Homo sapiens: one gene and its partners. The protein of the gene in region 4 purifies or fractionates together with the protein of the main gene of each other region. This does not show direct contact. Each region holds a gene or a part of one and is shown on either strand. Other genes may lie near its edges.

What was found. The genes of interacting proteins can lie anywhere in the genome.
Region 1: the proteins of ZNF653 (region 4) and ZNF100 purify together in Homo sapiens (affinity purification with mass spectrometry; one large-scale study listed by BioGRID and IntAct). This does not show direct contact.
Region 2: the proteins of ZNF653 (region 4) and UTP25 purify together in Homo sapiens (affinity purification with mass spectrometry; one large-scale study listed by BioGRID and IntAct). This does not show direct contact.
Region 3: the proteins of ZNF653 (region 4) and THUMPD3 purify together in Homo sapiens (affinity purification with mass spectrometry; one large-scale study listed by BioGRID and IntAct). This does not show direct contact.

What each region holds. Positions count from the first base shown.
Region 1 is NC_000019.10:21,725,619-21,730,502, forward strand, and holds part of ZNF100 (zinc finger protein 100), read right to left. Parts: intron 2,372-4,884; coding exon 1,065-2,371; 3' UTR 1-1,064.
Region 2 is NC_000001.11:209,833,549-209,838,432, reverse strand, and holds part of UTP25 (U3 small nucleolar RNA-associated protein 25 homolog), read right to left. Parts: intron 3,359-4,884; coding exon 3,270-3,358; intron 1,633-3,269; coding exon 1,222-1,632; intron 1-1,221. UniProt on the Homo sapiens protein: Component of the ribosomal small subunit processome for the biogenesis of ribosomes, functions in pre-ribosomal RNA (pre-rRNA) processing. Essential for embryonic development in part through the regulation of p53 pathway.
Region 3 is NC_000003.12:9,379,131-9,384,014, reverse strand, and holds part of THUMPD3 (tRNA (guanine(6)-N(2))-methyltransferase THUMP3), read right to left. Parts: intron 3,513-4,884; coding exon 3,397-3,512; intron 817-3,396; coding exon 706-816; intron 1-705. UniProt on the Homo sapiens protein: Catalytic subunit of the THUMPD3-TRM112 methyltransferase complex, that specifically mediates the S-adenosyl-L-methionine-dependent N(2)-methylation of guanosine nucleotide at position 6 (m2G6) in tRNAs.
Region 4 is NC_000019.10:11,495,059-11,499,942, forward strand, and holds part of ZNF653 (zinc finger protein 653), read right to left. Parts: intron 3,282-4,884; coding exon 3,238-3,281; intron 1,108-3,237; coding exon 892-1,107; intron 565-891; exon of another isoform or gene 486-564; intron 1-485. UniProt on the Homo sapiens protein: Transcriptional repressor. May repress NR5A1, PPARG, NR1H3, NR4A2, ESR1 and NR3C1 transcriptional activity.

The sequences.
Region 1 (4,884 bases), about 10 Mb from region 4:
GAAGAAAAGGCAGGAAATAATTTAAGAGTTGAATTACATTATTACTCACTTTTCAAAAAATCTAATTTTTTCAAAAAGTTAAGCATACTTTGAATGCAATAACTGCAAAAAATTTCTACTTTTAAAGTTATATACAAATATTTTACCAATTTTAGTTTTAGATTATTTTCTATACTCAGCACTCTGATTTAGTAAAATACCTGAAGCATCAGTGCCTTACATATTTCTACTGTAAATTCTCTGATATTTACAGACTTAATGATTAAAATTTTTAAAAAATTTTTCCTGTATCTGCAAAAATATGTTTTAGTATGAACTCTCTGGTGTTTTCTAAGCTGTAGTTTTTGAAAAAGTATTTTTCCAACTTTATTACATTCGCACAGTTTTTTTCAATATAAATTCCCTGATATTGAACAAAGTTTGAGCAACTGCTTCAGAGGTTTCCTCTAATACAAAACGTGTACAGTAAGATCTGTGATACAAGTAAACATATTACAATTCTACTACAATGTTCTTCTTCAAAATACTCTTCACTTTAAAAGCTTATATTTTCTTAAAGATATTTTGACAGTAGTTGCACTTATGTTTTTATTGAGTATGAACTCTCTGATGTTGAGTAAGATGTGAGCATGTATTAATGGCTTTTTCACAGTCTTTATATTTGTACAATATTTCTCAAGTATAAATGCTTTCCTGTGAAGGTGTGAGCATTAGTTAAAAGTTTTGTCACACTGTTCACACATGTAGAAGTTTTCTCCAGTATAACTTACCTTACCTACAATCAAGTGTGACAACCATTTAAAACTTTATCACATTCTTCACATTTCTAGGATTTCTCAACACTATGATTTATGTTTTGAAAAGTTTGAGGTGTTTTCAAAGCACTGTCACATCTTTCTGGTTTGTAGAATTTCTCTCTAGTATGAATTATCTTATGTCTGTTAGGAATTGAGAATTTATTAAAGGCTTTGCCATATTCTTCACAGTCACAGGAGTTCCCTCCAGTATGAATTTTTTTATGTTTAGTAAGAGTTGAGGACTGGTAAAAGGCTTTGCCACATTTTTCACATTTGTAGGGTTTCTCTCCAGTATGAGTTATTTTGTTTAATAAGGCTTAGGGACTGGTTAAAGTCTTTACCACATTCTTCCCATTTGTAAGATTTCTCTCCAGTATGAGTTATCTTATGTTTAGTAAGGGTTGAGGATCGGTTAAAAGCTTTGCCACATTCCTCACATTTGTAGGGTTTCTCTCCAGTATGAATCATCTTATGTGCAGTTAGTTGTGAGGACCGGTTAAAGGCTTTGCCACATTCGTCACATTTGTAGGGTTTCTCTCCAGTATGAATCATCTTATGGGTAGTAAGGTTTGAGGACTCATTAAAAGCTTTGCCACATTCTTCACATTTGTAGGGTTTCTCTCCAGTATGAATTCTCTTATGTTTAGTGAGGGCTGAGGACCAGTTAAAGCCTTTGCCGCATTCTTCACATTTGTAGAATTTCTCTCCAGTATGACTTGTCTTATGTTTAGTAAGGTATGAGAATCGGTAAAAAGCTTTGCCACATTCTTCACATTTGTAAGGTTTCTCTCCAGCATGAGTTATCTTATGTGTAGTAAGGGTTGAGGACTGGTTAAAGGCTTTGCCACATTCTTCACATTTGTAGGGTTTCTCTCCAGTATGAATTATCCTGTGTGTAGTAAGGTGTGAGGACCGGTTAAAAGCTTTGCCACATTCTGTACATTTGTAGGGTTTCACTCCAGTATGAATTCTTTTATGTGTAGTAAGGTGTGAAGACCGGTTAAAAGCTTTCCCACATTCTTCACATCTGTATGGTTTCTCTCCAGTATGAATTATCTTATGTGTAGTAAGGTGTGAGGACCGGTTAAATGCTTTCCCACATTCTTCACATTTGTAGGGTTTCTCTCCAGTATGAATTCTCCTGTGTGTAGTAAGGGTTGAGAACCAGTTGAAGGCTTTGCCACAATCTTTACATTGGTAGGAATTCTCTGTAATATGAAATCTTTTATGTTGAGTTAGGTGTAAAAGCATGCAAAATGATTTTTCACATTTTTTACATTTGAAAGGTTTCTTTCTAGTATGTCTTATCTTATGTCTGTTTGAATTTGAAAATGTATGAAAGACTTTTGCAGATGGATCACATTGAAATATGTTGCTCTGGGTAGTTATCAAACACTGGTTTAATTTGTTATCATGTTCTTTGTGCACTTTACACTCATCCACACTTTTACAGCCTTTTTGTAACTGTAAATTGTCATGTCCATATTTTCCATATTTTTTCAGAATCGCTTCTTGAAAAGAATCTTTAATGTCCTGCTCTGCCCAAAGGTCTTGGGGAAAATGAGAACATATAACTGAAAGAAATAAAAATAACAAATTACTTTACTTACTAGACACAGATAGTTTACAAATCTAACCTCTAATATACAAACTACATAAATAAGATGGCATAGGAAAATACCAAAGGCCCTCATTCCTTTATAGACATATAAATGTAAAAAAAAAAAAACCAACCAAATTACATCTGAAAAAAATTATAAATGAGTTAAGTGTGTGAAGTGCCCCTGGTGAGAACAATGCAAAGAGCCACTTAGAAGTAAAAGTCTGTACATTTACCCAACAGAGCTCTTTCTGCTCCCCAATATAACATACTGTCTTTAGAAGTAAATTGCCAACTTGTTTTTAATGACAAGTAAAATACTGGCACATTTATCTTTATTACTTGCTTCTAGGAGCCTTTCCAGACACTGGTTTGTGTCTCTCTTGAAATATAATGCTGAAAGAAACGGTGGTATACTTTGGAGTGACAGTCTTAACTTTGCTGAGACCAAAGGTAAATGTTTCAGCAACAGAGAGACTGCTGTACCACAGACAGAAAACAGGTGTAGCACGTGATTATTATTAAGAAGAAACATGAATAAACTCCTTTAACTAAAAGAGAAAGACAAAATCTCAGACAAGACACATTCTAAGAACATGTTTGAGAGACTCCCAGAATCTCTAACCAAGACGATTGTTCAGACTATGCCAGGACAAAGCTACATTATAAAGATTGTGACAGGTAGCCTTTTTTAATGTCCAAATTTCAATCAAGGATTACAATGTATACAAAATAAGGCAATATGGTTCCATAAAAATATAAAATTTTAAAAAAGAAACTATAAAAAAGATGTATACACACCGATTTTAAAAATTGAAAATAAATTGAATAATACTCAGTGAGTGAAACAGGAAGACAGAGAACTATAGAAAATCAGAAAAATGAAGATAAGAACATAAATATTTAGAATATCAAAAAAACAAATTGTGGAGGTAATAAATATAAAAAAGAATAGCTGAAAAATATTGAAAGAAACGATGTAAAGATGAAGAAGCTCAACAAACAAACTAGGAAACACACAAAGATATTTATAACAAACACATATATAAGCACAATTTCAAAAGTCACAGACAAGAGAACCTTGGGAGCTGCAAGATAAAAGTGATGCGTCATTTGCCAGCATAGTCTTATGAGACAGCCAGTGAATTGTCAATAAAAATTTTGCAGGCCAGAAGGGAAGTGTGTAATAAAGTCAAACTCCTGTAAAATACAGCAATCAAGTAAGCATAATACTATCAGCAAATCTGTCCTGCCAAATAAAAAGAAAATAACTTTCAAAAGTAACAAAATTCTGAAAAGTATATTGGAACTCCATAAACCCTACATACAAAATGTACTGAAAGCAGTTGCTTCTATTGAAAATAACATGATTCAACAAAAACAACACAGTCAAATAAAAATACATTACTTTCGGGAGGGGGGAGGGATAGCATTAGGAGAAATACCTAATGTAAACGACGAGTTAATGGGTGCAGCACACCAACATGGCACATGTATACATATGTAACAAACCTGTACATTGTGCACATGTACCCTAGAACTTAAAGTATAATAATGAAAGAAAAAATAAAAACAAAACAAAACAAAAACAAAAAACAACAAAAAAATACATTACTTTCTGGGAAAGATTATATGCACATATATACTTTTACTTCTAAGTATATGCACATACACCAAAATGGAATTCCTTAGCATTATCATAATGGTGCAGAAAACATTTTTAATTATTCTCTAAAATTTGAAAGTGAAAATCAGAGAAATCATTATAAACATCTGTTAATAAATATACAACATAAAAAGATATAATTAGCAAAATCAATGACAAATTTGAGGGGAGAAGTAATGAGAAAAAAAATGTGCATGCAACTGAAGTTCTTTTTTACCAGATTGAAATATACTGTTATATCTTTTAGAGGTTTACGTAATCCCCAAGGTCCAAAAAAGAACATGTGTGTATAGATACACAAAACAAGAAAGAAGTAAAAGCATATCAATATAAAAATAAAAAGATACAAAGACAGAGAGAAAATGAGTGACCAAGATATAAGAATCAAATAAAACAATTAATAAAATAACATTAGTATGTCTTTCTGTTTCAGAAAATTATTTAAATATATATGTTTAACTTTCCAATCAAGAGACATACTTTCAATAGAGACTTATTTAAATATTTTAAAAACTGAGATCCAACTTGCCTTTCTACGACAGTAAGCTGAGATCTATTGATTAAAAAAAAACTGAAAGTGGCAAGATGGATGTAGATATTGCATGTAAATATTAACCAAATGAGAGAAGAGGTCAAAATAATATTACATAAGCTACATCTTACGTGAAAAACTTTCATATTTTATAAAATGTACTGCAAGTCAAAACTGCAAAGAGACAAAGAAGGGCATTAAACAATAATAGATTCATTTACTGATAACCTAAGTGTGTGTGTGTGTGTGTGTGTGTGTGTGTGTGTATCTCACATTAAGGTTCCAAATA
Region 2 (4,884 bases), on a different chromosome or scaffold from region 4:
ATTACATTTCTAGTGCATTCTCTATACAGTGTTTCAGAAATGACAATAAAGCATTTCTAAAAAAAAATGACCACAATTAATGGGAAAAACAGGACTCAGCTTTCTAAGCATATTCAAAAATATTTAAAGTTACTGTTGAGAATAAAAACCGAAGATGCTTAAAAAATGGTTAATTTCTAATTTCCTATTGTAAACAATGGACATAACCCCAGTTAAATCACGTAATTCACCAAATTATAATATGTTTCATAGATAATCTGCCTCTTATTCTTCTATGTAATTCTAAATGGAAACAACCTTATAACCCTGATGTTCAAGCCCCAAGGAGTGCAGTGGACTCAGCTTGGTACAGTTGCAGAGATGGTGGACCAAGATTTAAGAGGACTGGGTTATTGTTCCAGCGGTGACAGTAAGCGTCGGGGCTTTGGTTTCCCCCGCTATTACACAAGGGAGTTTGACTAAGAAATCTCTAAAGGCCACATTAGTATCAAATTTCTAGAATCCTATTAAACTCAATGAGAAAATTCTAAAAAGATGAGGCTTCTTCAATACGGAGAGATGCAGTTCAGGGCAGGGGGACAAGTCCTGGTTCTATAACATCATGAATAATGTAGATAAAATTGAAAGCCATTTCCTGTTAAGGCCTCAAATCCACTAGAGCTTAGACTTATGAATACAAACGCATCACTTTAAGCAGCAATAACTTTACAGTGGCAAATGTAAATTTTTGCTTTCAAAGGCTGACGTATGTATGTGGCTTAGTGAAGAGAATCTATGGTTCTTGTCTCATCTCTGCTATTCTTTCCCTGGTTCTCTTTAGCAAGGCCCTCTATGAATTTCTACGAATTTGGGGTTGTCCACAGCTGTAATATGGAGGGATTGGATAAAAGGCTCATTAAGGTCCCATCCAGCTTTGACAACCACAAAGAAGAGATTTATAATGGAGTTTTATTTATATACTCTGGGTTTATCTTTAAGGAAAGTGTCATGAAGTGCCTCCTTCTCGCAAGTTTCCAGCTACATCCACTGTCAGAAACAGCCCACTAAGCTGCTGCAGTGCTGCTCTGACACTACCTGGCCTACTTAATATGCTCACATTTGGGCTCATTCATTATGCCAGTCAATTATTAAAATACCCAAGTTCCTGCTAAGTGTCAGGCACCTCTATGGCAGTGCCTTGCAGCCACCTCCTCGAGAGCAAAGCTTTCCTGCTGGACTCACCTTGGGCCTTGTTAACCCTTGGTCTCTGAAGTCATCATCATCACCCACTCCAAACTTCTGGCTTCGGCGTCTGCTATTGTTGCCAAGCACCTGGGCATTGGCTTTGAGGATGTGATTTATCACATGCAGGCAATACACATGGCGGATCTCTTCCCCGTTCTTCAGAGCAGTCCTTTCCGGGTAGAACAGGTCCCGGTAAGAATTCATAATTAAGAAGAGTTCTTTCTGGAGGGGGGTGAATGGGCTGCTTGATTTTTGGGGACCAGATAGGAACTGGCTGTTGGTCTTAGTCCAGGTGGATTCCAGAGGCTTCTGGAGATGAAGTGACTTTAAGTCAATATCCTTTGGGGGTTTAAATGTTTCCAACTTCTGAAACTTAGAGGAAAAGAAAAGCTGGCCCAGAATAGGCCACTAGGGGAGAAACAGATCAAGAGCCAAATTAGAAATGAATAACAGTAAATTACATTCACATAGTACTATATTTAGCGAATTTTTTCATGATTTATAGATCATCTCATTTAATCCTCACAACAGCCCTGCAAGGTAGTTACCATGATACTCATGTTATAGTTTAGGAAGCACTGAGGTTCATACAGAGGTTGTATGATACAAAGTTTACACAGAAGAAAATGGAGCTGAGGGCTAGACCCCAAGGTTTCTGACTTCAAATCTGAGCTCTTCACCCTATCAGTTGTCCCACACTGTTCTGTGGAATATATTCTGGGAAGAGTCAACATTCATTCTAGAAACAAAGGGGTTCCATGGTCAAATACCCTTGATAAACATCACAAAACTTAATTCCTCTGAGGGAGATTGACAATGTACACTCGATACTAAAGGTGTTGACAAGTTCTATGACAAGAAATCTGTCCATTTTGTTTAAATCCTAAGGAATACTATTTTCTATTTTGTGGGATACAAGTTTAAGAATTTTTGCATTATAGCTAAATTGCTGATCTAAAAATAGGACAACCTCAGCAATAAAAAGAAATAAATTACTGATAGCTGAAATAACTTGGATGACTCTCCAGGGAATCATGCTGAGTGAAAAAAAAACAATCTCAAAAGGTTACATGCTGTATGAGTCATTTAACATTTTTAAAATGACAAAATTATAGAAATGGAGACCAGATTAGTGGTTACCAGGGGTTAGAAATGGGGGTGGGGCAGGGTGCAGAGGGAGGCAGATATGGTTATAAAAGGGCAACAAGGATTTGTATTTTGCTGGAAATGTTCTGCATCTTGATGGCAGGAGTAGATACAGGAACCTATGCATGATAAAATTGTATATAAATATAGGCACAGGCATATGCAGTTGAACAGGAGTAAAACCAGATCTGAGTAAGACTGGTAGATTATATCAATGTCAGTTTCCTGGCTGTGACATTATACTACAGTTCTACAAGATTTCACCACTGAGGAAAACTGGGCAAAGGGTACAAGATGTCTTTGTATGATTTCTTACAACTGCATGTATATCTATAATTATTCCCTCAATAAAAATTTCAATTAAAAAAAGGATGACCAACTCTCATGAATGGCATCAGTGGTAAGAACAAAGAAGCAAAAACTGCCCAATATCTGGATAATTTATTTGTGGACCTACCTCAGATATTTCAAACAAATGAACAACAGTAGTACCTACTGTTTTAATGAACACTGTTTTACTGAACACTATGTATTAGTAAACTATTCTATTTTGAGATAGGTATTATTATCCCCCTCTAGCAGACTAGAATAGTGAATAGCAAAAAAGCAGATGAACTTGCCTTGGGTCAAAATGTGATAGCTCCTTGAAGATGTTGGTCTCCAAATCCACTCTTACCCATCATTATATTATCTGGCACCCACACTCCAGCTTCCTGGTGCGTTTTCTAGCTACAACTGTGCCCCACTAGGCTCTTCTAGCCTTCCTTATGCCCTGCTTCCCTATCAAGCCATCTACTGCAGGTGTATATCATACATTCTGGGAGGCCACTAAAACCCAAGACCACTGTTTTATTTAGAGCTTTCTCTATTTGTGACCGGGATGACCAAGCAACACTTACTTTAAGCTCGTGGGTAGTTTTGGGATTTGTGGCAACAGCCTGAATTGCTTTTTCTTTCAGTTCTTTGTTCACATGTTGAAGAAATGGATCTAATTCAGAAATAAAAAATGTCAGCACACTATGCAACTACAGAGGGGTTTTGTGGTCTTCCCCTGTGAAAGACATGTTGATCTTCATTGTGTTAACTCATCCTTTTCTCCATTGACTTTCCCCACCCTCTGGCCAAGTCCAGAGCTTAAAAACTTCTGAAAGGTTCATTTTCCTAAAACATTTCTCTAATTATATTACTTCCCAGCTTGAAAACTTTTGAAGAAACTTCTCAGCCTGGAATTCAGAGCACTTTAGGATATACCTCCAACCTGCATCTCCGTTATCATTTCTGGACTATATGGCCCTCAAATTCTTCTGCCTCTGTGCTTTTCCTTCCTTCAACTAAAAATTCCAGCCTCTCCTTCACTTCATTTTTGCATATCCAAATGTTATCAATTTAATGTTACCCACTGAATCACAATAAATACTTCCCAGGCTTACTGTGTTAGGCACAACGTTGGCTCACCTTGTTCCCTAGAGTCATCACTTTCTCAAGTCTCCTACTCTGCCCAACCCACCCATTCCAACACATATACATATATACATGTCTTATCTAGCAGACTGCAAGGTCTCTAAGAACAGGTTCCATGTCTGATTGATCTTGCACTGGGACACACAGATATGACCAATACTCCACTGAATTGAACAAATGATCCACATGATAGCATCTGCACTCCAAGTAATCTTTAGTATTCTGAGCTAGCCACCCAACCTTCTCTCCCAGTCCCACTCATAAGAAACAGAACAAAGTTAAATGACCCATCCAAGCATCCAAACAGTAAAATTTCAAATGAAATGCATCTTGTATTAAATATCTAAGAGTGAACAACAGGACATAAGAATTCTAGATGCTAATATATCTGTATGAGCAAAACAACCACAGAAATTATGGGACAGTCAAGCTTCCTAATGTTTCCTCCAAAGTTTCTAAGTTTTAATGGTTCAGAATGGAGTTTGTACTAAAATCTACAAATTCTACCTGTCACTTCTTCTCCTGCAAAATAACCAACAGAACTAAATGAGTCAAATGAGGATTAAAATTTCTGTTTCATTAAAGGTAAAGCTGGGTTGAAGAATGGCAATGAGATCAATGAAGGCAATCAGGATACAGAACGAGACCAACCTGACTTGCCCACCCAGACACTGGCTGAGAAACTGGACTTGAGACAGCAGGAACCCATCAAAGCCCGCCATAGGCACGTCTTGACCACGTGACTGCCATTTGGTCACAGGAGTGGTCAAGAGTCTGTGGGAGGCAGGAGACACAGGGTAGGGCTTTTTGGCTTTTGAGGGTCTCCCTGGTAATAAAGACCACTCAGATTAGCCACCCCTGGGTCTTGCAAATCTGAAAAATTACTGCTCCAAAAAGGAACAGCAAGTGAGGGGTAGAGGAAGTATTTTTTCCTCTTTTTCTTTCTCTTTCCCTACTTGGGGAGAAAATCAGAAATCTTCCCCTGACTCCAATAATGAAAATGTGAGGCCTGGGAAGCTGGCCTTCCCTACCATCATTCTTGTTTGTTCTCCT
Region 3 (4,884 bases), on a different chromosome or scaffold from region 4:
TTAGACAACTGTGTTAGTTATATGACTTGTCCTCTTAGTATAATAAGCAGTCAAACTGTATAAACCAAACAAGTGATTAGAAATCATTTAGGCCAGGTGTTTTGGTGGCTCATGCCTGTAATCCCAGCAGTTTGGGAGGCTGAGGCGGGCAGATCACCTGAAGTCAGGAGTTTGAGACCAGCCTGGCCAATATGGTGAAACCCTGTCTTTTAAAAATACAAAAATAAGCTGGGCATGATGGCATGTGCCTGAAATCCGAGCTACTCAGGAGGGTGAGGCAGGAGAATCGCTTGAACCCGGGAGGCAGAGGTTACAGTGAGCCGAGATCATACCACTGCACTCCAGCCTGGGCAACAGAGCAGGGCTCTGTCTCCAAAAAAAAAAAAAGAATCATTTATGCTGAGAAACAGAATGAGAACCAAGTCTTCTACCACCTTTTTGTGTAGGATATATAATTCAAGAATGGGCTAGAAAGTGAATTACAGGTAATTTAAAAATGAACCTCCCATGATGGTCAGGATTCCAAATGTAGTTAATACATTCCTGAGTTCTCGGAAGAAACATAATGGGTGAATCCATCATGTTGTTAAGTGAAAAACAGCTCTGCTAAGTCTGCTAAAATTCAAGATTTTTTTCCTGACTTAGAATAAACGCAAGGAAAATAATGACATATTTAGAAGACAAGCAGGTACTAGTATTTCTCACCTTTTTCCAAATGGCAAATCTGTTACAATAATATCCACAGAGCCAGTTCTCAATGGCAGATTGCAGATATCCCACTGAACAGCATCTATGGGCAAGCCCCAGGAGGGTTTGCTGTGGGGACAAAGGAAAGGTGCTTCAACATACTGTGAAGCATAAAGTTATTACAACAATTTTTGTTTCTGAAGAGAGACTGCTACAGCAAAACATAAACTGCTAAGGATATCAGTGATAATATCAACCTATTCAAAATTTAAGAAATGGCACAAAGGTAAAAAATAGGTCAGGCTGGGCATGGTAGCTTGTGCCTATAATCAGCACTTTCAGGGGCTGAGGTGGGAGGATCACTGGACTCCAGGAATTTGAGACCAGCTGAGCAACACTGTGAGACCTTGTCTCTAAAATACTTTTTTAAGAAGTTAGCAGGGCATGATGGCACACACCTATAGTCCCAGCTACTCAGGAGGCTGAGGTGGGAGGATCACTTGAGTCCAGGAGTTGAAAGATGCAGTGAGCTAGGATTGTGCCGCTTTACTCCAGCCTGGGTGACAGAGCAAGACCCCCGTCTCAGAAAAAAGGGAAACAAACTGAAAACATGATTGTAATGCAGAGAACTGCAAAAGACAACTTTAAAAACAATGCTGAAGCAGTAAATTACATAACCGATGATACAAAAATTTAAGTTGCTGATAAAACATACACTGGAGAAAAACAATACTAAAGAATAGATAATGGGGTGATGTATCTGAAGAATAAAGTTTGTAAAACTAGTAATAACAGGAGGCCTAAAAGAAAAACAGATAGTAAAATTGGCAAATATATAGGTAATTGTTTCAAGATGAAAAACCAAAAGGAAAATATGTGCCATGCTATATAAAACAAGACTAAGAAAAAAGTTAAGATAAAAAATATAGATGACAGAAGACAGAATGAATAATAATAAATACAAAGGATTTAAATCCTCCTCATTAAGGCAAAGCAACTGGTTTAAGAAACAAAATAATGCACAGGCTAAGAACTGAAGATAAGTCAAAGGTTATCAGCAGAAATTAAGGATTTAATTGACATTTAATGAAGAATTTAAGAAAAAAATGCAATAAAAGCAATCATTACATAATTTTTAAAAGTACACATAAAATATGTATTATAACCGCATACCAATAACTGCACAAAACAAAAGGCAAAAAATATTAAAAACCAAAGTAAAATGGATAGAAATGTACAGGTTGAGGCCGGGCACAGTGGCTCATGCCTGTAATCCCAGCACTTTGGGAGGCCAAGGTGGGCAGATCATGAGGTCAGGAGATTGAGACCATCCTGGCTAACATGGTGAAAACCCGTCTCTACTAAAAATACAAAAAAAAAATAAGCCGGGCATGGTGGCGGGTGCCTGTAGTCCCAGCTACTTGGGAGGCTGAGGCAGGAGAATGGCGTGAACCCGGGAGGCGGAGCTTGCAGTGAGCCGAGATCAAGCCACTGCACTCCAGCCTGGGCGACAGAGTGAGACTCCGTCTCAAAAAAAAAAAAAAAAAAAAAAAAAAAAAAAAAAAAAAAAAGTACGGGTTGAACAGACAGTGTAGGTACAAACAAGATAAAATATTCAGAAGCTAGAAAGGTACGTTTGTTTAAATGTTTATCAGTTTTAATTAAAAAAAAAAAAGACTGGCCATATACTAGGCTCATTAAAAAAAACCCTCAATAAATATGAAACAACCATTCAAAATTAATTCATCACAATAAATCAGTATTTAAGAAAATTGAAGCCTTCCAACTACTTGTCTTAATACACGTAAAAGGATTTAATGTTGATACATAGACCAGCAGCATCAGCATTGTCCTGGAGTTTCCTGGAAAATGCAGACTCTTAGGTCCCATCCCAAACTACTAAATCAGATCTGTGTTAACAGTACTCCTAGGTGATTCACATGTACATTAATGTTTGAGAAGCACTGTCCTAAAAAATTAGATCAGAGAGACAATGAAATATATAACCAATGACTTAGTAATAAAATAGAGGCGAGGCTATATAAACTGCAGTATTTCTATACGATGGAATTTATGTAGTGACTTTAAAGACTATGGTCCAGGTGTGGTGACTCGTCTCTAATCCCAGCAATTTGGAAGGCTGAAGCGGCAGAATCTCTTGAGGCCAGGAGTTTGACACCAGCCTGGACAAAACAGCAAGACCCCCATCTCTACGAAGATTTTAAAAAATTAGCTGGGCATGGTGGCACATGCCTGTATTCCTAGCTACTAGGGAGGCCAAGGCAGGAGGATTGCTTGAGCTCAGTAGGTTGAGGCTACAGTGAGCCATGATCATGTCACTGCACTCCAGCCTGGGTGACAAAATGAGACCCTGTACCCAAAGCAAAAAAGAAGCCTATGTAAAAATATACTGTTTAAAATTTTGTGAAATTAAAATGAGTCTATAAAATATTCTTCCAATATGTAGGGGAAAAGACATATGAATAAGACAAATGAAAAATTGCATATGGTGGGGAAATTATCGCTAAAATAATATTTTAAAAATATAACTTATTTTCAATAAACTTTAAAAATGTAAATGGAGTCTCATAGTATATTCATTTTGGTTACAATGACGTCACAATGCACTGGGAGTTTTAATTCATAAAGTCAATATAAAAAGTGATTCTCTAACTCTAAAAGATGCTAAGAAATCTTTTAAATTTTTACCCTTCTTTAATTTGGCTCTTGGTCAATAAAGATGCAATGTTATTTGCTGCTCTATTCACAGCCAGTGGATTATTATCACCAGCAATATGGAAACAGTCAGACCATTCAGTGGCCCCCTAAAAGATAAGAGTGTATGTTAAAACAAAAGTAGCAAACTGTAAAATATGATTAAATTGTCAACAAACAAAGAAAATCCAGTGCTTTTCTAGAGTGGCAAAACATTGCATGTTGTCAACTGTGCTATTTCCCTGGCTGAAAATGCCCTCTTATTCTTTCTCTGCTTGCTGAACCTCTACCCATCTCTTAAGACCCAGCTCAAACCTCATGCCCTTTCAACATCAACCTTAACTCTCCAAGCAGTCTTATGTGCCCCTCCCAAAAACACTTTGTATGTACGTACCTCTGCCACTGCACTTGTCCCACGGTTAATTATTTCTTCCCCTTTATGCCTCTCAACTAACCTGGGAGCTCTCTGAGGTCAGGTCTAGTATTTTATTCAGTTCCTCATCCAGCAGTGTCTGGCACACTAAATTCTAAGTTAATGCGGTTTGAAAATATTTGAGATTTGTGGTTGTGGGAGTTTACATAATCTGATATATTTGAAAATTGCAAAATAAAATGCTATTTCCGGCCGGGCATGGTGGCTCACACCTGAAATCCCAGCACTTTGGGAAGCTGAGGCAGGAGGATTTCTTGAGCCCAGGAGTTTGAGACCAGCCTGGGAACATGGTGAAAGCCCATCTCTACAAAAACACAAAAATCAGCTGGGTGTGATGGTGTGCACCTGAGTCTCAGCTACTCGAGAGGCTGAGGTGGGAGAATGGCTTAAGACAGGGAGGCAGAGGTTGCAGGGAGCTGAGATTACACCACTGCACTCCAGCCTGGCTGACAGAGCAAGACCCCAGGTCAAAAAAATAATAGTAAAATGCAATTTCCTTTGTATGATAGGCTTTTGAATGGTAACCACCATATCACTGGAAGGATTTTGTAATTATAAATAAAAAACCTGTCAGCAGAACATAAATACCAAGCTGTCACATGTCATTTGTGGAATGAGGTGACGTGACCCTAGGCCTGAACAATGTTCTATGCAGATTAACAGAAGGTTTCTGACACGAAAGCCGGGAAAGGTCTGCCTCTGCTTAGGGGTGAGTAGCAAACACCTTTGTGTTCCTTTGTGAACAGTAACATACTTCTCATCCATGAGTGCAGTGTTTCATAACTTTTTCTTTTGCCCAGACACTTGAGGGTGATAACATACCCTGTCTACAATCCTACGATGACATCAAACAAAAGGGAAGTTGAAGTATCCCAGAATTTTGGGTGGGTGGGGATGTAGAGGGGACCTAGAGTTTGAGGAAGGCTCTCAGTGATTCCGATTCCCAAATATTCTTTTTTTTTTTTCCTAAACCTATTTGGATTTTCAGCATTGGAAAGAATTGGGTTTTATAGCATAACACTTCTAAATTAAAAAAAAAAATTATTCTA
Region 4 (4,884 bases):
CTCGGCCAGCTGGGATGCCACCTGCTCCGAGATGCCAGCCAGCGCAGGCTCAGCCCTGGTGACCGCCCCACCCTCAGCCCTGACAGGACGCCTGGCAGTGTGCCCTACGCTCCTTCTCCAGCCATTGCCGAACCCCTGAGGCTGCCGGCAGCCCCCTCACCACTCACCGGGGCCAACTGAGCCTCCCTCACTGAGTCCCTGCCCCGTGGGATGGGAAGGAGAGAGGCAGGGACCGCGAAGGTGGGGAGGGAGGAGGAGAAAGGGGAATAGAAGGAAACAAGAGAAAGAGAGAGAGGGAGATGAGACAGAAAATGAAAGATCAAGGAAGGAGGAGACAGAGGCAGCTCAAGGGAGGAGAAATGGGGAACAGGAGGGAAACAGAATGGAGGGGGAAGGCAAGAAACGAAGCCTGGAAAGGCAGAAGGCAAGAGAATGCAACTGGGAGCCAGAGAAAATCGAAAAGGAGGTAGCGGCCAGCTTAGCCAGGGCTCAGGAGAGCATCACAGCCTATGAAGCCATAAGGCCTGGGTGGTTTAGGCGGCCGTTTCGCTGTGGGGGCCGAGCCCTGCCCCAGCAGGCCTGCCCCCGCCCCAGCTGCCAAGCCAGGGCTCCTGGGCCCTCAGCCAGCCCTGCCTGGGACTGGCCTTGGGCACAGATTGGCAAACTGCTCCATAAAGAGGGACTGCCTCCCCACTCAAGCTCTGTAAGGACGCAAAGAGGGCAAGGCCACGAAGGACTCAGCCTGGCCCATCGTGTCCCTGCTCTGCCCCAGTGCCAGAGCCAGAGCCAGAGCCACTGTGGCTGCTATTCTGTTTGTGATGCTAGCCTAGGGCTCGTAAGAAGCCCCCAGAAATGGGCGGCCCCCTATGTGCCCTCGCCCTGCAGACCTACCTTTGTCACTGTCAGGGTCTGAGTCGCTGAGGGGCTTCAGGGGCGAATGCAGGTCCTGGAAGTAGCGGTGGCCAGCTTCGCACTGCCACACGGCCGTGGTGTACAGGCCAAAAGTGGGGTCTAGCTCCGCCAGGTGCGGCTCGTACGGGCAGCGGTGCTTGTGGTCCTCGTACCAGATCACCACGTTCTTCAGGCAGTTCACGTTGCGTCGCCGCCCTATGGACACAGGGCCGAGGAGTGGGTATAAGGGACAGGGCTCAGCCCATGGTGACATGGCTGCCTGAACCACCGGGGCTTTATGGGTCCCATGGGTTTGGAGGCCCTCCTGAGTACCATCCAGGCCTGTACCCAGTTTAAAGGGGGAAACTGAGGCTCAGAGAGGAGAGGCACCCCCTGGAGGTAACGGGGACTGTTCTATTGGCAAAGTCATGTAAACAGTGGAGCCTGGTGCACAGTAGGTGCATAATAATTGTTAGCTGCTTGTTAATTGTTCTCATCTTCATCAAACGCCTAGACCAGCGCAGTCCTCAGGCCCAGGACTCCCAGGCTCCCGCCCTAACCACCCCCTACAGCCGCAAGGGGGCGCCTGTGAATGCCCGAGTCAAGTCTGTTCCCTCCTCTGCTCAGAATCCACTGGGCCAGGCGCAATGACTCACACCTGCAATCCTAGCACTTTGGGAGGCAGAGGCAGGCGGATCACTTAAGGCCAGGAGTTTGAAACCAGCCTGGCTAACATGGCGAAAACCCATCTTTACTAAAAATACAAAAATTGGCCGGCATGGTGGTGTATGCCTTTTGTCCCAGCTACTTGGGAGGCTGAGGTAGGAGGATCGCTTGAGCCTGGGAGGTGGAGGATGCAGTGAGCCAAGGTCGCAACACTGCACTCCAGCCTGGATGACACAGCAAGACCAACTCCCTCAGGGTAAAAGCCAAAGTCCTCCCTTCGGCCCACAAGGCCCACTGTGACTTGTCACCTCCCCGCCCTCACCCACTTGGTGACTGCACTCCACTCCAGCCACATGGCCTCCTCGCTGTTCCTGGAGCGGGCTAGGTGTGGCCCTGCCTCAGGGCCTTGGCACAGGCTGTGCCTGCTTCCTCTAGATAACTGTCTTGCTCCCTCCCCACTTCACTCAGGTCTCCCCCAAATGCATCCCCTCCAAGAGGCCACTCCCTGCCCAGTCACTCTAGCCGACCTTAACTTTGCTGTCTGTTTTCTCCAGGTAGTACCTAGATGCCATCTGTGGCCATTTGTTTACATGTGCCCTGTCTGTCTCTCCCACCAGAATGTCAGCTCCTCAAGAGCAGGAACACTGCTGTTTTGCTCCTCCTGTACCCCCAGTGCCCCCAAAGGGCCTGGTTCATAGCAGGTGCTCCAGGAACATTTGCTGGATGAGAGAACGCTGCATAGCGGGCGGGCATGGTGGAGCCGGACCGCCTGGGTTTGAATCCTGGCTCTGCCCCTTCCAAGCTGGGTAGCTCCAGGCAAGTGACTTGGCTTCTCTGAGCCCCAGGTGCCTCCTCTAGGCTGGGGAGAATAAGGGATTCCCATCCCGGAGGGCTGCCAGGCAGGAGGAAGGGAGTGAAGACATCGCCAGGACACAGAACAAGGCTGGGCACACAGTGAGTGCTGGGAAATGGTATCTGACTCTTGTGATGGTCCTGGTCCCTCAGCCAAGTGCGAGGACAGCATGTCCCCCACTCCTACCCTGTGGGCCGGGAGATGAAGAGGGGCCCAGAAGAGGTGTTTGGGTCTAGGGAATGTGCTCACAGTCTCCAATCATGAGGGCAACAGAGTCGTCACCCACAGCCGCCTCTCCGGCCCAGCCCTTTCCCTCCTCAATGCGCTCCTCATCCCTTGAGGATTCAGGATCAAGGTCATAGCTCACCCCTGCCTCTGGAGAAACCTAAGAAGGGAGGGGCTCACTGCCACCAGCTGGCCTTCACCCTGCTGGACATGGCCTGGGACCCCCAGCTCCAGGGCTCAGAGCTGTGCAGACCCTGACAGTTCAAGCTCTCACCAACTGGTGGCCAGCAGGACAGGAGGAGCAAGCTCCAGACCTCCCCTCTAACCACCAGTGCTTGGCTCCCCCTGCCCTTAGGGCTCTGCAAAAGCTGTTCCCTCTGCTCGGCTCTCCCCTGGCTGACTCCCATGCCGGGAGCAAGAGAATGAGGGAGCCAAGGACACTGCGCCTGAGACACAAGACACGCAGACCCGGGTTTGAGGTCGGGCTCTGCTGGTTCCAACTGTGCTGCCTAGGGCAGCGACCTGGCCTCTCTGGGCCTCCATCTCCATATTCCCACCGCTCCCAACTCTCCCCACCTCCCCCAGGCTGAGCCTCCACTTACTTTTCTTCCGCTTTGGCTTTTTGGGGACCTGCTCCCAAGGCTTCCTGCAACAGAAAGAGGCAGAGAGGGTGAACGGGGGACCAGCGCTGGGCCTGTCTGACCCATGAGTAACAACAGTGGCTAGAGCCACTGCTCATTGTACACTGAAACTAAATCTGAACTTTTTGAGATGGAGTCTCACTGTGTTGCCCAGGCTAGAGTGCAGTGGTGAGATCTTGACTCATTGCAGCCTTTGCCTCCCAGGTTCCAGCGATTCTCCTGCCTCAGCCTCTCAAGTAGCTGGGATTACAGGTGCACGCCACCACACCTGGCTAATTTTTGTATGTTTAGTAGAGACGGAGTTTCACCATGTTGGCCAGGCTGGTCTCGAACTCCTGACCTCAGGTGATCCGCCCACCTCAGCCTCCCAAAGTGCTGGTATTACAGGCATGAGCCGCCACGCCTGCCCTGAACTTTTTTTTCTTTTTGAGACAATGTCTGTCTCTGTTGCCTAGGCTGGAGTGCAGTGGTGCGATCTCGGTTCACTGCAACCTCCGCCTCCCAGGTTCAAGTGATTCTCCTGCCTCAGACTCCTGAATAGCTGGGATTACAGACTAATTTTGTATTTTTAGTAGAGACGGGGTTTCACCATGTTGGCCATCCTGGTCTCAAGCTTCTGACCTCAGGTGATCCGCCCACCTCGGCCTCCCAAAGTGTTGGGATTACAGGCGTGAGCCACCGTGCCCAGCCTAGAATCTGAACTTCTATGTACCTTTCCCCAACTCCAGAACTGTGTCACCAGGCCCCTCCCTTGGACTCTCTCCCCAATTGCCATCAGCCCTGGGAGGGGGCTCTAGCATCATCCACCTCAAGGAGCAGGAAAAACAGGCTTGGAGGGGTGAGGCCATCTGCCCTGGGTCCCACAGTCAGGGAGCAGAGAAGTAACAAAGTGGGTATGAAAAGTTTGTGTGGAAGCAGAATTCCAAGATGGCCCCCACAGTTCTGCTGGGACACATGCCCTGTGTGATCCTCTTCCCCTGAGCGGGGCAGGCCTGTGAGTAGGACTGGATGTCAAGCCTTGGTTAGGTGACTGTGAGTTAATCAAACGGGAACATATCTTGTAGGGCACAGTGGCTCAAGCCTGTAGTCCCAGCTACTTGAGAGGCTGAGAGTGGTCTTGGCCCACAGCCAGCAAGACAGTGGGTACTGTCTGGGTGTGGTGTCTCACACCTGTAATTCTAGCACTTTGGGAGGCTGAGGCAGGAGGACTGCTTGAAGCCAGGGGTTCAAGACCAGCCTGGGCAACATAGCAAGATCCCACCTCTATTTATACAATTAAAAAAAAAAAAAAAAAAGGCCAGGCTCCGTGGCTCATTCCTGTAATCTCAGCACGTTAGGAGGTTAAGACGGGTGCATCGCTTGAGGCCAGAAGTTGGAGACCAGCCTGGGAAACACAGTGAAACCCCATCTCCACAAAAAATACAGAAATTACCCAGGCGGGGTGGCATGCACCTGTAGTCCCAGCTACTCAGGAGGTTAAGGTGGGAGGATCACCTGAGCCTGGGGAGGTCAAGGCTGCAGTGAGCTATGATCACACCACTGCACTCCAACCTGGGCAACAGAGTAAAACCGTGTCTCAAAAACAAAGAAACAAACAAAAACAAACAA